Linked DNA regions of Homo sapiens: region 2 is linked to region 1. The links come from fine-mapping of genetic effects on gene expression. A gene starts in region 1. The other region holds a variant in brackets. All regions are shown on one strand. Distances are from middle to middle.

The links. PIP is the estimated chance that this variant, and not a neighbour inherited with it, causes the effect. A credible set is the group of variants that fine-mapping cannot tell apart.
Region 2: its variant is the best candidate, but not a certain one, in a credible set for the expression of ZCCHC9 in lung (GTEx, PIP 0.82).

The regions. Positions count from the first base shown.
Region 1 is chr5:81,300,378-81,303,291 of GRCh38, forward strand. ZCCHC9 (zinc finger CCHC-type containing 9) reads left to right here and starts at 1,210. Exons shown (of 6, transcript NM_001131035.2): 1 at 1,210-1,321. CKMT2-AS1 (CKMT2 antisense RNA 1) reads right to left here and starts at 1,192. Exons shown (of 2, transcript NR_034123.1): 1 at 910-1,192. RefSeq lists enhancers at 939-1,728, 1,292-1,391, 1,542-1,721, 1,729-2,518.
Region 2 is chr5:81,247,045-81,249,958 of GRCh38, forward strand. The region is part of intron 1 of CKMT2 (creatine kinase, mitochondrial 2); the gene reads left to right. The region is part of intron 1 of CKMT2-AS1 (CKMT2 antisense RNA 1); the gene reads right to left. Among named protein-coding and RNA genes, the nearest start is that of CKMT2, 15 kb to the left of the region's middle. The variant C/T (reference allele first, on the strand shown) is at 1,838.

The DNA.
Region 1 (2,914 bases):
ACGCAGTGAGCACCAAGGATGTACCAGGCAATGAGGATACAATAAACTTACACAATTATTGTGTAATTACAAATGTGAACCGTGTCATAAGAAAGTATAGACTGCCGTGAGCACACAGTAGGGGATTGGTCTAGTATGGGGGTAGGGGGCTGGAAGGCTTTCTTGAGAATAAAATACTTAAAGCCTTGAAGGGTGAGTAGAAAGTAACTGGAAGAAGAAAAGGAGTACCATACAAAGAGACTAGCAAATGTAAAGGCCTGGAGATGGCAAGGTACACACGGCATTTGAGAAATTGAAAAAATGATCCTATGCACGGAGCTCAAAGGAGAGACTGAGCAAGGTGAGGCTAGGGAAGTAGGCAGGGACTTCATAAGGAGTTCGAATTTCATCCTAAAACAATGGGAAGCGAAGGGAGAGTTTAAAGCAGTACAGCAGTACTGCTTTAAATGTAATGATTTACATTTTCAAAAGTTCCGTTCCTACGACACGGAAAATGGATTTCAGGGAGTTGGGGCAGAATGAATCCCCAGACCAGTTGTAGAACTACAGGTACAATATGGGACAAGGGAGGAGGTGCCAACAGAGATAAAAAGAAGTGGACAAATATTCAAAAGGTTAAATGGATTGAGCAAACTGTTGAGAGTAGTGGTCCTGGTAAATTGCATTTTTTCACTAGGCACAGCTGGTGGTGGTATCCATTTGCAAGAAGCTACAGAAAATGAGCCGTTTGGAAATCCAGGGTTTTCCTCTTAAAAAGAGAACTTGTTTGGCTACAAAGTGTTAACATTTTAATTGAATGCTCAACGAGCACTGAAGGGGGGACATGAGGCACTGCCTCTCACCCAAGAGAGCCCCCAAATGTCCTTTTCAGACTTTTATCACAGTGACCCACTCCCACCGCGCCTTTACCTTGCCTCTGCCTGGAATGTCCTTAACTCCCTCTTGCCGGCAATTTCACCAGATTTTTGATTTCTTATCCAGTCTCACGGGAAGCCTTTCCGGCATCTCCCACCCTACCGATCTTCCCGTCTATCTCGCCTGCTACACTGTGAGTTCAGACAGCACGGATTGAACTCTTCATCTTTTCGTGTCGGCGTCCTGCACAGGGCCATCCCATCACTAAGCGCGCCACAAACTCAGCCCAGTATTGACGCCCACGAGTCGCTTGTAAAGACCGTCTGTGACGCCGGAAGTGACGCGCTCTCGGGCACTATGTGCTTCCGGTCTCCAATACCGCAGGAGGGCGGTCTTCCCCGGCTCGCCAACTCGGCTGCTCTGGGGGATTCGTGCGCGGTAAGAAGCTGCGCGGTAGCGCGGTGAGGTGAGGTTCTCAGCCACCAAAGCTGCAGGGTCTCGTCGTTCGTTCCCTCTGGCCTGGCGGAACTTGCGTGGGAAGCTGGGAGGACAGAAGGCTTAGCCGCTGGGTCCCTGAGCTGGCTGGAGCGCGGGCTGTCTAGGGGCGGCGACCTCAGCTGTTGGGCTCCGGCTGCTGGGGGCTGTGCGTCCAGCCGCCCTGGAATCCGCCTGTGGGTGGGCCGCTTGGCTCTCCCACTTCACCCTCTTGATAACCCAGAGCCTCCCCCTTCCCACGTACGTAGGGGAAGGATAATCTACTTCCTTTTGAACAGCTTCGGTCCCCACTATGACAGTCGCATAAACTTCAGCGAAGAGTGCGCTGGTAAAGTGGCATGGAGTTTCTCACACCAATTCATTGGGTCCACCCTTCAGCTTCTGTGGAAGGGGTCTTTCTGTTACTAGGAGCTGAGACTTGGGGGGTTGCCAGGGATGCTGGTCTTAAAAGGTGATAATTTAGGCCGGGCGCGGTGGCTCACGCCTGTAATCCCAGCACTTTGGGAGGTCGAGGCGGGCAGATCTCCTGAGCTCAGGAGTTCGAGACCACCCTGGGCAACATGGTGAAACCCCTTCTCTACTAAAATACAAAAAATTAGCTGGGCGTGGTGGCACGCGCCTGTAATCCCAGCTATTCGGGAGGCTGAGGCCCGAGAATCGCTTGAGCCCTGGCGGCAGAGGTTGCAGTGAGCCAAGATCGCCCACTGCACTCCAGGTTGGGCTACAGAGTGAGACTCCGTCTCAACAACGACCACAACAACAACAAAAAAGGTGGTGGCTTAATACAGCCATGCTCCCCTTAAGAACTGGTATAGTTATGAGAAATGGTTGGGCCGTTTCGTGGTTGTGTGAACATCATAGTGTACTTGCACAAACCTACACAGCTGGGCCGTATGGGATAGCCTGTTACTCCTAGTCTACAGACCTGTACAGTATAACTACTAAATACTGTAGGCAGTTGTAAAAGGATGGTGTGTATCTAAACACAGAAAAGATACTGTAAAAATATAGTGTAAAAGAAAACATGGTACAGCTGAATAGGGCACTTACGCATGGAGCTTGCAGGGCTGTCGGTAGCTATTAAGTGAGTCAGTGAGTGGTATGTGAGTGTGAAGGCCTACGATATTATTTAGGGTATTACTGTACACTACTGTAGACTTTATAAATGCGGTATGCTTAGTCTAAGTTTATTAAAAATAAGGTAATAACCTTAGCTTACTGTGCTTTTTTAACTTTATAAACTTTTAAATTAATTTTAACTCCTTGACCTTTTTTTTTTTTTTTTGAGACGGAGTTTATTCTCTCTGTCTCTCATTTTTGAGACAGAGTTTTGCTCTTGTCACCCAGGCTGGAGTGCAGTGGCGCAATCTCAGCTCACTGCAACGTCCACCTCTTGAGTTCAAGCGATTCTCCTGCCTCAGCTTCCCAGGTGGTGCGCGCCTGTAGCTGGGACTACAAGAGTGCGCCACCACGCCCAGCTAATTTTTGTATTTTTAGTAGAGATGGGGTTTGACCATGTTGGCCAGGATGGTCTCGATATCCTGACCTTGTGATCCACCTGGCC
Region 2 (2,914 bases), 53 kb before region 1:
CCCCTCTAGCTACAGAAGTGGAGCCCACAGTGAGGGTGTCTGAATGCTTGAGATTTTATCCCAGGGAGAAACATCCTGGCTGCTCTGGTTCCTCATCTCCTCTCCCTAGTGGTCTCTGAACAGAACAGTTCAGTACGTTATGATAATGCTCAGAACATGGAGGGAACTGAAAACGTTAAAAAAGCTTTGCAATGAGCCTGAGATTTCTTTTTGTTCCAAACTTTTGTCCTAATGGTTTCACAAGATATACTGACTTATAAAACCATGTTTGGAAACTAGGCAAAACCAATACTATCTGCTTTGATAGACACAGATTACCCCTTACAAACAAACATCTTCCCAGCTTTACTTATGCCACATGTTATCATGTGTGCAAATAACAAATCAAGCCTCTTCTGAGTAGGGGTTACAGCTGCAGAGAATGCTTATGTAACATTTGGGGCCTGCCAGGTAACAGGGAAATGTGTAAGACAAAGCAATGTTCTGACTGCGCAGCGTTTTAAAGACTAACTTTTAACATGCAAGAGAGATTTAGTTTAGTCATGAGGAAAAGTGATTTCATTGCAAGCCTTGATTCTGGGTCTTTGGAGAGCATGGAACAGCCATTGCCAGAGCACCAGCCTGTTCAGTGAGACCTTTGTTTCAATTTCACAAACAAGGTTACTAATTAAGGCCTTAATAGTGAAATTCAATGCCTCTTTGTGTTCTGGCGAGACAAAAACAGAGTCAAGGAAGCAGGAATTCTTTGCTTCACCAAAACCTGGAGTCTGTGTCAATTCTCTTCAAGGAATCAAAGCAAGGATACTGAGGAATTTCAGTTCCAAGATTGCTTTGCTAGCCACAATCAAAGCTTCCCCAGGATTATCTGCATGAGTCATCCTTTGTTGCTCAGACACAAGGGCAGTATTGGAACTTGGAATAAAATAATAATTATAAATTAATTAAATTAGTTCCTTCCAGGAACTAAAATATGGATATGACACTTCAAACATTAATATTCTGAGCCAGATACCCACTCACACATCACCCTTACAGGGAGGAAGACCTCCAGTGGTCACAGGACTATACATGGAGACCATTCACTCCCCTTCCTCTTGGCTCTGCTTCCTAAGATTTATCATCTCAGACACTGACTTGGGCACATATCAGTGCATAGGCAATTTAAGGAATGAAAAATAGGGACCAGGACATTTGGGTCATCCCTGGTCAATCCCAGAAAGGAACATACTTCCTGTTAGCTTAGGAAGACCATGTCTGGCTTATGTTTAGGCCCATACTGCCTGGAAAGAATCTGGGCAAAGCTTCTTTCACTTTAGTGAGTTCTACAGTAAACCTCTAGAGTGACAGCATTGCCTCTCTCTAGTTAGAAAGTGGGTTTGAGGGTGTGATGGCAAATAAGATGGCCCAAAGGATGTATGCTAGCGTTGCCTGCTGCAAGCAAGGACCAGGAAGCACTGGTGCAGCTCACTGAAGAGCCGTTATCTATTCTTGGAGGGATACTGACATGATGACCTGAAATCTAGCAGGGGAGCAAAGAAGTTTCCATGATGAGAATGAATGTTGGTCTTTACAAGTCCCCAGGACAACTTCAAGAAATGACCAATTTATATCTTGTCTGCTCTTAGTAACTTACTGGCTTTAGAATTGAAAGAATTGTTTGCAGATATTAGCACGGAAGAAGAACTAATAATCTGATTTCCTGGGCTATCCTGTAACCTATATCCTGTAACCCCTACTCAGAAGAGGCTTGATTTGTTACTTGCACACATAAACATTCTCAAATGTTTTCAAGGTCTTTGATGCTTTTAGTTGGGACATTCAGGTTTAGTAGAGACTT[C/T]GAAATGACGGTTCTATTAGGAGTTGATGTTTATTCTTCACTGGATGGCCCAGGTTTTCAGCTACAGCCTTACACATCAGCAAGTTCTTTGAAGCAATCAATTCAGCTAAGTTTGGAGCATCTTGCAGCTGAGTCTTGGGAGCCTTCCAAATATGAGGGAAATCCATGCTCTTTTTTTTTTTTTTTTGAGACAGTTTTGTTCTGTCACCCAGGTTGGATTGCAGTGGTATAATCTTGGCTCACTACAACCTCCACCTCCTGGGTTTAAGTGATTCTCATGCCTTAGCCTCCTGAGTAGCTGAGACTACACTACAGGTGCATGCCACCACACCCAGCTAATTAATTTTTTGTAATTTTAGTAGAGACAGGGTTTTGCTGTCTCTACTAAAAGACAGCTAACAATGTTGGCCAGGCTGGTCTCAAACTCCTGGCCTCAAGTGATCCGCCCACCTTTGCCTCCCAGTGCTGGGATTACAGGCATGAGCCACCATCCCGGGCCCATACACTCTTTATTTGGGCATTATGGAGATCAAATAGAGTACTGAGAACTACGTACTCTTTTGTTCTCTACTCAAAGAGCCACATTACACAGCTCCCTGCTAGGTGATACTGTGGGGCTAATTGGCCCTTCTAAATCTCTAGGCAGTAGCAGACCCAACAGGGTTTCTGTCTGTGCATGTTTATCCTCTTTTTCATCGTTTGTTGGTAGTTCAGTACTTGTATTACAAATAAATATATAAATACTTATTTAGATTTATACATGTTTTCTCCATTTCAGGCTCTCTCCTTATGCTGTCATTTCCTTTCTTTCTGAAGCATATAGCTTAGTAATTCCTTTGTTATTGATCTGTTTTTTATCAATGTTTTTCACTCTCATTTTTGAAAAAATGGTTAGACTAGTTCCCCAGTTCTAGGGTGACAGTTATTGCTTCTAAAAATATTATCTACCTGGGCTCATTATCAAAAAATCAGCTCGTTTGTCATTTCTTTGTAGGTAAACTGTCTTTTCTTTCTGACTGCTCTTCACGTCTTTGTCACTGTTATTCTGCAGTTTTATTATTTGTCTAGGTGTCAATT